2 separate regions of the Homo sapiens genome follow, and region 1 is linked to region 2. Evidence: fine-mapped expression QTL. A gene starts in region 2. The other region holds a variant in brackets. All regions are shown on one strand. Distances are from middle to middle. Region 1 overlaps ZNF710 (zinc finger protein 710). Region 2 holds the start of ZNF710 (zinc finger protein 710).

The links. PIP is the estimated chance that this variant, and not a neighbour inherited with it, causes the effect.
Region 1: its variant is fine-mapped to the expression of ZNF710 in whole blood (TOPMed, PIP above 0.99).

Annotation. Positions count from the first base shown.
Region 1 is chr15:90,073,608-90,078,837 of GRCh38, reverse strand. It overlaps ZNF710 (zinc finger protein 710), which reads right to left. Exons shown (of 5, transcript NM_198526.4): 4 at 4,548-4,722. It overlaps ZNF710-AS1 (ZNF710 antisense RNA 1), which reads left to right. Exons shown (of 2, transcript NR_146321.1): 2 at 3,925-4,326. Among named protein-coding and RNA genes, the nearest start is that of ZNF710-AS1, 6.0 kb to the left of the region's middle. The variant C/A (reference allele first, on the strand shown) is at 2,990.
Region 2 is chr15:89,999,110-90,004,583 of GRCh38, reverse strand. It overlaps ZNF710 (zinc finger protein 710), which reads right to left and starts at 3,260. Exons shown (of 5, transcript NM_198526.4): 1 at 2,970-3,260. RefSeq lists enhancers at 911-1,678, 1,679-2,447 and silencers at 2,147-2,646, 3,062-3,230, 3,639-3,808.

The sequences.
Region 1 (5,230 bases), 74 kb before region 2:
GCCCTGTCCGCTGAGATGTGCGTGTTTTGGGGGAAACAGACCCCAGGCTGGGGGCAGCCCTGACAGGTCTAAGGCAGACTTTCTCAACCTTGGCACTTAGGGCCATAATTCTTTGTTGTGAGGCTGTCCTGTGCATTGTAGGATGTTTGACAGCATCCCTGGCCTCTACCCATGAGATGCCAGTAGCATCACCCCAGTTGTGACAACCATAAATGTCTCCAAACATGGCCAACTGTCACCTGGAAGACAAACTCATGCTCAGTTGAGAACCACTGGTCTAAGAGTAATCCCATCCCTTCCCAATTAGTGGTTCAGGAATAGGCACGTGACCCAATCCTGTTGAATGGGTCATGAGGAAAGGCCTGCTAGTAAGTTCTTAGCACCTTCTCATTGGTGTCAGAGAGCTAAGGGGAGCAGGCTGTCACTCTTCCACTGGATGTGAACAAGGAAGCACACACCCTGACGGCCACTGGCAGCCATCTTGTGACCATGAGGATATTCGCAGCTAATGCTGTGGACAGAGGAAGCCTCACCCTGATGTCACTGTTGGCAAGCTGAATCAGCCAGCTCTGAAGAGGGCCTAGACTTTGAACCATTTCTTTTCTCTTCTTTTTTTTTTTTTTTTTGAGACCGAGTTTCGCTCTTGTTGCCCAGGCTGGAGTGCAATGGTGCAATCTTGGCTCATCACAACCTCCACCTCCTGGGGTCAAGCGATTCTCCTGCCTCAGCCTCCCAAGTAGCTGAGATTACAGGCATGCGCCACCATACCCGGCTAATTTTTTTTGTATTTTTAGTAGAGACGGGGTTTCTCCATGTTGGTCAGGCTGGTCTTGAACTCCCAATCTCAGGTGATCCGCCTGCCTCGGCCTCTCAAAGTGCTGGGATTACAGGCGTGAGCCACTGCGCCTGGCCCCATTTCTTTTCTTTTTTTGACAAGGTCTTGCTCTATTGCCAAGGCTGGGGTGCAGTGGTGCAATCATGGCTCACTGCAGCCTCAAACTCAAAGTGATCCTCCCAACTCAACCTCCCGAGTAGCTGGGACGATAGGTGTGCGCTACCACACCTGGTCTTGAGCCATTTCTTAATGGATTTCCTTATTGTTTAGGCCAGTCTGAATGGGTATCTGTTACTTGTGCCTGTAGCATCTAACCCACTGTGAGTCTTCCGGACTTTATAAAACAAGGTCACTTGACCCATATCTTATAGATTTGGGCTGTTTCTTCCCTCAGTCCTAGTGCCACACCCTCATGTTACACAGCTGGTTTCAAAAACAAGCTAAATAAAGCACCTTGGGGGCCAGGCGCAGTGGCTCATGCCTGTAATCCCAGCACTTTGGGAGGCCAAGGCAGGCAGATCATGAGGTCAGGAGATCAAGACCATCCTGGCTAACACCGTGAAACCCCGTCTCTACTAAAAATACAAAAAAATTAGCCGGGCGTGGTGGCAGGCGCCTGTAGTCCCAGCTACTTGGGAGGCTGAGGCAGGAGAATGGCGTGAACCCAGGAGGTGGAGCTTGCAGTGAGCCGAGATCGCGCCACTGCACTCCAGCCTGGGTGAAAGAGCAAGACTCCGTCTCAAAAAAAAAAAAAAAAAAAAAAGCACCTTGAGAAAATTTCTACTTGTGGATCTCTGTACACCGTCCCCATTTTGTTTATTAAGTCTATGGTCCCGTCCTGTGGGCCCCAGAGAATAGTCTGTAGCATTTTTTATAAGGACATTGATCCACCTCCCCAAATGACAGCCCCATAGTTACTAGATCGTTCTGTCTAGAATGTATGCTGCCTTCCTTCTGCATACGCATCAAGCCTGGGCTTCCCAGACCAAGGCTGTATGAGGGAGGTGGGGACCTGGAGCCCAGTCATTCCAGGGCCAATCGCTTCCTTCTGTCATCTGGTACGGCCAGGAATAGAGGAATTCTAAGCATCCCTGGTGACTGAGCTCATATAGAAAGAGGTTGTGCCTTAACCACCCCGAGGAACAAGGTGTACAGGGACAGTCTTTTTAAAAAATCTTGTTTGGGTGGTGGGATGGGGGTGGGGCGATTTCTGGTAAAAACTGGAAAACCTGCTAAATGAATGCTTTTTTTTTTTTTTTTTTGAGTCAAAGTCTCACTCTGTCACCCAGGCTGGAGTGCAGTGACACAATCTCGGCTCACTGCAACCTCTGCCTCCCAGGTTCAAGTGATTCTCCTGCCTCAGCCTCCCGAGTAGCTGGGATTACACGCATGTGCCAACACGCCCAGCTAATTTTTGTATTTTTAGTAGAGACGGGGTTTCATCATGTTAGCCAGGCTGGTCTCGAACTCCCAACCTCAGGTGATCTGCCCACCTTGGGATTTGCCTCCCAAAGTGTTGGGATTATAGGCGTGAGCCAGTACGCCCAGCCTAACAAATTCTAAAAGAGCTGTAACACTGACAGTCTCTTCATGGTCCCAGTTATTTCCAAAAGGGCACGTTCTGCTCTGGTTCCTTCTGGTGGGTTAGCAACAGGGCAGATCCACTAGAATACAGCTCTCAAAATCTACTGCACATGGACTCACCCAAAGTGCTTTACAAAAATCCTGATCCCAGGCCACATTCCAGATCACTTACATTTGAACCTCAGGTCCAAACTCAGGCATCAGCATTTAAAACATTCCTCAGGTGACTCCCAACATGCAGCTGATTTGCCAGCCAGCCCTCTGCAGTCTGGATCAAAGGTTCTCAACATGAGGTCCCTGAACCAGCGGCTGCTTTGCTAAGAACTGGGAACTTGTGGGAAAGGCAGCGTCTCAGACCCCACCCCAGATCTACTGAATCAGAAACTCTGGGGGTGGGGCCAGCACTTTGTTTCAACAAGCCCTCCAGGAGACTCTGAGGCACTAGTCTGGTCCAGTGGGTCTCAAACTTGACTGCAACAAATGGCCCAGAGATCTTTTTGAAGTGTAGAGTCTGACTCAGCAGGTGTGGGTGGAGCTGAGAGGCCAGCAAGATCCCAGGTGGGGCCGAGG[C/A]TGCTCATCCTCCTACCACATTTTGAGTAGCAAGGAGCTACCAAGAGCAGCCGACGGGGTTTCATTCTCGTCTACTGGAAGCAACCTTAATAGACAACTGAAAAACAAAACAAAACAACTGAGATACCTGTTTCTGCCAGAAAACCCAGGCCATTCACTGGTCAGCTGTTCCAAAACCAGAGTTAAGCTACTGCAGCTGTTCCCGCGTGCCTGCCTGCATTCCAGTAAATAATCCCACGTGGCAAGTCAGCTCACCTGGTTACTGCCAAAGCATGTTCCCAGCTGGTGTGACTCAGAGGCACACCAGAATTTCTTTATTATAATTTGGCGATAGGGTCTTGCTTTGCCACGCAGGCTGGAGTGCCGTGGTCCGATCACAGTTCACTACAGCCTTGAACTCCTGGGCTCAAGTGATCTTCCTGCCTTAGACTCCCAAGTAGCTGAGATTATAGGCACACGCCACCACACCCAGCTAATTTAAAAATATTTTTGTAGAGACCAGGTCTCACTATGTTGCCTGGTTTGGTATCAAACTCCTGGCCTTAAGGGATCCTCCTGCCTCGGCCTCCCAAAGTGCCAGGATTATAGGTGTGAGCCATCATGCCCAGCCAGAGCACCAGAAATAGCTCCCAACTGTAGAAGGAGCCTCCCTGTAGCGCTGTTGGCTCCCTCCTTCCTGTGGAGTCTCCACAGCAGTCCCTCCCCACCATGAGGCCAGAGAGGCTAACAGCTTTGCTGTCACCCAACAGAAATGCTTTAAGTACTGACCACTGCTGGAGGGAAAGGCTACCGCTAACACTTGGGATGTTTTCTGACAGCCTCTGAAACTTCTACGAACTGCTGAGGCATAGGATCCTCTCCTAAAATTTCTCCCAGATCTTAACGTCAGGGCTGTCTGGCCCTTTCATGAGTATGTGGGTTATAGTCTCTGGCAGGCACTTGTGAAGAGTGTGACTGATTGACACTTTTTTGCCTTGGTTGCTGGGAAGCTCAGATCTCCCCTCTGCATGTCCCTTGCTTAGGACCTCCCATGGTGTACTTGGAGTTGGGACCTCACCTGGCTCTCCCTTATCTTTCCGGCTGCCATTTTTTCCCCTTTCTAACTTTCTTTCCCATACACTTATTTGAAATATTATCTCACGGTAACGAAATAAAGTGTCTGTCACCTCCTGCTGTGTTGTCATCTTGCATGAGCTATCTAAGTTCTCTGTTCTTCAGTTTCTGCATCTGTAAAACGATGACAATGACAGAGCCAACCTCGCTTTGAGGATCACATGAGTTAATAAAGGCCTGGCACACAGTTAGCACTCAATAAATGTTAGTTATGATTTTTATTATATTGTTTACGTGATCTCATTTAAGTCCTTTGAAGAAGACATAAATATCCCATCGTTATTGTCATCATGGCCTTCCAGGGTACCCCCCTTCCAGACCTGAGCCCACCCCAACGAAGTCTCAGCCTTGGCCAGCCTCCCCACTCCTCTAACTGGGCAGGAGGCTCCTGAGTGCGTCATGTTGGTATCATTCCTGCTCTGTCCATTGCGCTTGGCCCACCCACCTTGGCTGTCCAGGCCGATGTCCATGACGCCATGCTTGACCTTCATGTGCCGGCTCAGGTTGCCCTTGAGATTAAACTTGCTGGAGCAGTAGGGGCACTTGAAGGGCTTGCTGCCGGCGTGCAGGTGCATGTGGCCCAGCAGGTTGTACATGCGGTTGAAGGACTTCCCGCACACCTAGAACACATCAACCCGGTGTCCTGAGCCTGTGGGGAACCTGCTTTCCCCGGACCCCAGCCCACTCCCACCTCTATGGCTGGGCCAGAATCCTATTCTTTTGTTTTTTTTTTTTGTTTTTTTTTTGAGACAGACTCTCACTCTGTTGTCCAGGCTGGAGTGCAGTGGCATGATCTCGGCTCACTGCAACTTCTGCCTCCTGGGTTCAAGAGATTCTCCTGCCTTAGTCTCCCGAGTAGCTGGGACTACAGGCACGTGCCACCACGCCCAGCTAATTTTTTGTATGTTTAGTAGAGAAGGGGTTTCACCACATTGGCTAGGCTGGTCTCGAACTCCTTACCTCAAATGATCCACCCACCTCAGCCTCCCAAAATGCTGGGATTACAGGCATGCACCACCATGCCTGGCCCAGAATCCTGTTCTTTATGGACAGTTCTCTCTTTATGCTTTTCCATGTGACCCCAGACACCCGAGAGACAGGGACACAAGCCATCCATTGGGGGTCACT
Region 2 (5,474 bases):
CAGCTTTGAAGTCAAAGGGCTGGGAGCAAGCACCATTAACAGCAGGCCCAGCACATTCACAGATTCCTTATTTCAACATAATGAGTCCTGCCGCGGGCTAGGCCCTGGCTAGGCCTGAGGAACGAGGGTATGGGAGGGGTCAGCAAGCCAGATTATGAGCCTGCGCCAAGCATCAGCACTGGTGGGGCCAGGGAGCTGACTTCACTTGTCTCCTCCAAGATGCGCTGGACTCCTCCTTTATTTATTTATTTACTCCCTTCTAGAAAGAAGTTGTGCTTCTTTCCAAACACAACTCTGCTAGAAATATCTCTGGGCCACAAGGCAAACCTAAAATAGAAGTGCAAAATCTCTGGTGGTCCCATTAGTCTCCCTTCCTCCAACTCAAAAACCATTCCAGACCTTGTCTGTCTCCTTGTCTCTAGACAGTGAGCCTAAAATAAGTCTCCCTGGTAGGAAATGCCTGGTTGGAATGGAAATGACCCAAGCCCTGGAAAAATGGCCCGCTGACCACACACCGTGGGCTGAGGACTCACCCAGGTATCAGCTCTGAGAAGACAAGCAAGTGAGCCCGCGTCCCACTTCAACTCACTGCAGCCCCCTCCACCAAGACACAGGCAACCAGGCCAGGCTGGAGGAAGAAAATGTGACCCAAACATCCAATTCCCCCTACCCAAAAGAAAGCAGCTCTATCCCCACGGCCCTCATGCAGGAAAGCCAGCTCCAGAAGGTCACTGGGGCACCAGGTGGGCACCTCTCTGGAGCTACAGATGACCGATCAGAGGTTCTGCTCCGAGACTGGCAGGTACCCAGCACAGTTACCCTGGCCTGAGGGTCAGCTAATAAAACCAATGAGAAAGTATAGAAAATAACATTCTCTTTAAAACAAATGAGAAAGGAATGGCCACTCTAGGTTTTCAGAAGTCAAAACCAGATAGCCCCATCGGCTTTGATCACATTAGGAATACACTGTCTCTTATCTAACGAGTTAAGAACGGTTTTCTTCTTCCCTTCTCCCACGTGGCCCCATTGGTTCTCTAGGCCCCCTGGTGAAGATGCAATAGGGACACAGACCCCCAGCCCTCTACTTGGCAGAAATGAACTTTGACTGGTTTTACTTACACGTGTACAAATGCAGGACTGAGAGGGCAGCTTCAAAGCTGGCTGAGTGACCCCCAAGAGCACAAAGTCCTTCTCCGCACACCTGTGGGGGAGTTTTGTGAATTTCCCAGATGCCCACAGGGACTAGTTATGTACACTGCAGGTCGATACCGGCCGGGAGTTTCCATTTTGCACAGCAAGAAAGGTGCTCAGGGTGCCCTTTGCAGGTGGGCACTCGGCCTGCAGCTCAAGGGTGGGCCATGACGTTGGTCCCTCACTGGATTGCCCGGCAGGCCTCCCTCAGACCCAGTAGGACGAGTACCTCGAAGAGTCCTTGTGATCCCAGCACTTTGGGAGGCCGGGGCGGGCGGATCACGAGGTCAGGAGTTTGAGACCAGCCTGGCCAATATGGTGAAACCCCGTCTCTCCTAAAAATAATTAAAAATTAAACGGGCGTGGTGGCGTGCGCCTGTAGTCCCAGCTATTGGGGAGGTTGAGGCAGGAGAATCGCTTGAACCCGGGAGACGGAGGCTGCAGTGAGCCGAGATCGCGCCACTGCACTCCAGCCTGGGCGACAGAGCAAGACTCCATATCAAGAAAAAAGAAAAGGCACCCCGGATACTGCTACGCCTTGCCCTAACCGTCTCGCAAATCCTAGAGATACATGAATGACCCTTTCAGGTTGGTTAAAATCCACACAAGCACCTCCCTGGCCTCTTAAATCTTTCCAAACTACAGCTTAGACTGGAGGGAAGCAGTTGCAGCGCCCATAAAAGTCATCTTAAAAGGCAAGTTGGAAAAAAACCCGATACGCACTAGTTAGCAAGTCCGCGGTGAAGGGGGCGGTGGCCCAAGGGCCGGATCTGCGGGATCTGTGCGCCTAGGGTGGGGAGGCTGGGGCTGCCCCGTCGGTCCCCGAGCCCGCGCGCCCACCTGGTAGCCTGAGGGCCCCGATCTGACGCTGGTGCTCACGCCCCACAGCTCCATCCAATTAGGAAAATGACCGCGAGAAGACGGAGAGAGGGCGACGAGGAGGAAGGGGGGCTGAGCCGCGGGAGGCTCAAGACGGGCCGTAGGGACCCCGCCCGCCACCCCCACCCCCACGCCCCCAGACAGCGAGCGCCGGTCCTGGGTCCCCGGCCCGCGGCGCCCCGACGCTGTCCCGGCGGAGATCCCGCGGCGCCCAGCGTGCGGCGGCCAGTGGCCCTCGGGGACGCCCCCAGCCCCGCCAGCGGCGCGCTCAGCTCTCCCCCACCCCCGGCCGGCTGGGACGCGCAACAACCCCACCCGCTCCGAGAATAAAGTTTGTGGGCAGCCGTAGGGGCGGGGCGGCGAGGGGGTGAAACTTTGAGTCCCGGGCCGGGTGTGGGGGGAGCGCACCCAGCACCGGGACACCCACGTGCGGGCCCGAGAGCCTCCGCCACCGTCGCCTCCCGGGCCTCCCGCGCCGCCGCCGCCGCCGCCGCGACGCTTTCCTTTCATTTTTGCCTCTCTCTCTCTCTCTCTCTCTCTCTCTCTCATTCGCGCGCTCTCCTCCCTCTCGCCCTCTTTCGCTCGCTCCCTCCCTCTCCCTTCCCCCTCCCCCTCCTCTCCCTCCCCCCCACCCCAGACGCCATCTCTCCCTCTTTCCCCGGCTCTCCCTCTCTCCCTCCAGCTCTCCGGCATGAGGGAATGTGGAAGTGAAAGGAAAAGACGACATGTTTGCAGCGCGGCGCGGGCCTGCGCGCGGCCGTCCCCAGGGAGAGGCGGGGGGCGGGTCGGCCGCGGCCGCAGCGACCCACCCCCGCGCCCCCCGCGCCCCCGCCGGCCGGCAGCGCGGGGCTGCGGGGCTGGGGCTGGGGCTGGGGCGGGGGGCCGCGCGGGACACTCACCCTGGGTCCGGGCGCGGCTCCTGCGCTGGGGCCCTCGGCGGGCCGGGCCGGGCCGGGCCGGGGGCTCCTGGCTGCCCACCGCCCGGGCTGCTGCTGTGCGCCCGCCGCCCGCCTCCACGCGCGCCCGCCGCCTGCTCCTGCCGCCCTCCCTCCGGCTCCTCTCTTTCTCTCTCTCCCCCCTCCTCTCGCTCGCTCTCTCGCTCGCGCTCTCTCCCTCCCTGGAAGAAGGGAATGAGGCAGGGCTGACGTGAAGGGATGCAAAACAGCTCCTCCTAAGCCAGCTCGCAGAGGAAGAGAGAGACAGAAAAGCAGCCCTTTTATCTCTCTTTTGTTTTCTCACTTCCTTCCACCCCCAACACCTCCCTCTTGTCAGCCCAAGTTTTCTTTTCTCTTTCTACCGCAGAGGATTTTTCTTCCTTTCTTTCTCTTTCTTTCGGTTCAACTCTCCCACTCGAATTGAAAGCCTGAAGGGTTTTCTTTCTCCTGTTTTTTTCTTCCCTCTTTTCTTCCTTCTTCCTCCTTTCTTATTTCTCTAAAAGGGTTTTGTTTGCTGTGGGAGTTTCGTTTGAAAATCAAGTCACGCCTTTTTTCCTTCTTTTCTTTCTTTCTCTCTCTCTCTTTTTTTTTTCTCCTCTCAGCAGAAAAGGGGAACAAAGATTAACTGAAGCGGGGAAGAGGCAGACCTCGCTTGGAAATGGGGGGCCCGGCCCTGTCCGGTACAAAGGGGGCCCGGGGGCCCTGCGCCCCGCCCCCCCCAAGGGAAGCCAGGGGCGTCCTCTGGAGAGGAGAGCCGGTGCGGGTGTTGGGGCACGGGTGCGGCTCCTGGGTGCCGGTTCCTTCCCAAGTGCGAGCGAGGGCCGCCGAGCCCGCCCCTCCCCAGCCAGAGGTGGCAAGCTGGGTGTGTGTGCTTCACTTATGTATTTTTAAAGTAGGCAGATGGGCCTGGAACAAACATCCCCGCAGAGCACTGAACAGCAAAAGCCTTTAAACAGCTGTTAGCAGAGCCCTGGACGGCCTGACTCGAGGGAGCGGCGCGGGCTCCGAGCGCCAGGGCCCGGGTGGAGAAGGGGCTCAGGGCAGCTGCTGGGATCGGCGGGCTGGCGGGGTCCCCGAGCCCAGGGCCTGGGCCTCGGCCCCGGGGCGCACTGCTGGGGGGCGCCGAGGCGTGGTCGCTGGCAGCGCGGCCGTCAGGTCCCTCTCGGCTCCCTGAGGGGCCGCGGGGTTTGGCACAGCCTCGCCGCCCTCCAGCTCCGGCGCAGGCCGGACACCAGGCCTCCAACCTCCAGAACACCCGCCACTCCGAGCCGTTTCTCGACTGCAACGCAGGGCGGGTCCGGAGCCCTCGGACAGAGCCGGGCAGTGCCGCCAGGAAGGGTCAATTATTCATGGGGCGCCCGGGCGTGCTCCCAAGACCTGCTCTGTCCTCGGGTTCTCCGGAGGAGTGGGGAGAAGACGGGGGAAAGTTCCCAAAGCAAAGTTGGTCACATTTGTCATTTTCCCAAGTAAGTATTGAGCACCTGCTGGATGCCGGGCCCTCGGACTGGGGCTGCAGCCAGGGGGAGAAACGTGAGGTCTCGGTGGGCCCCGAGAGCAAACTCAGGGAACAATGCAAGGGAAGCTGCGGCTCAGGACCAGGTCACCGGGAGGAAGGAAAGCCTGGATCCTCTCCCCTCCCTCTTCCCTTCCTTCCCTTCCCTTCCTTCCTCCCGGCTGCATCTCCTTGGCTCCACCCCTTCTCCTCATCAATTCCTCCCACACTTCCCTGCTCTCCCTGGCTTTTCACTGAAGGGTCCCTTCTCCCAGGGAGGAGCAGATGCTGAGCCCCATTGTCTCTCCCCCAGTGACTGCAGCCTCCCGGGGACACGACCTGCCACTCCTCACCCCTCCCCCCAGCCCTGAGCCCTGGGCCTTTAGAAACGAGAGCCCCAAGGCCACGGCCCCTCGCCCCACCCTAAACCAGCTCCTGGTGCTCTGAGCTATGACTCCAGTCACTCAGAACACATTTGTCTCTGACGAGGAGTGAGGAAACAGTAGCCTGAGAGTTTGGTTCAACAAGAAGGACACCATGGTCTTTTAACATCAGCACCCTGAGCCCCCAATGACCCCAGGGCCTTTGCCCAGGTCTGCAGGAAACCACATTTCCGTCATCACTTGCAGCCTCCCACTTAGTACACCCAAGCTGCATCCTCCAAAAAAGCAGAATGCAGCTCTTAGAGCCAAGCATGCACTTAACAAATGCCTACTGAGTACCTACCCCGTGCCGGCGAAGGTGCTGGCTGCTGAGGACCGAATCATCAGCAAGACGCAGTCCTTGCTTTGGCCTTTGGCTTTGCAGGCGAAGGAGCAAGAAAAGAAGACAGCAACCTCAGTGCCATGCGATACAGGCAAGAGTGAACCAAGAAAGCTCCTAAGAGGGTGCTTGGACTAAGGTGGTCAGGTGTGGCTTCCTGGAGGAGGTCGTGTCTAGATTAGGCTGTGCTAGCCAAATGCATGGGAGAGAACAGT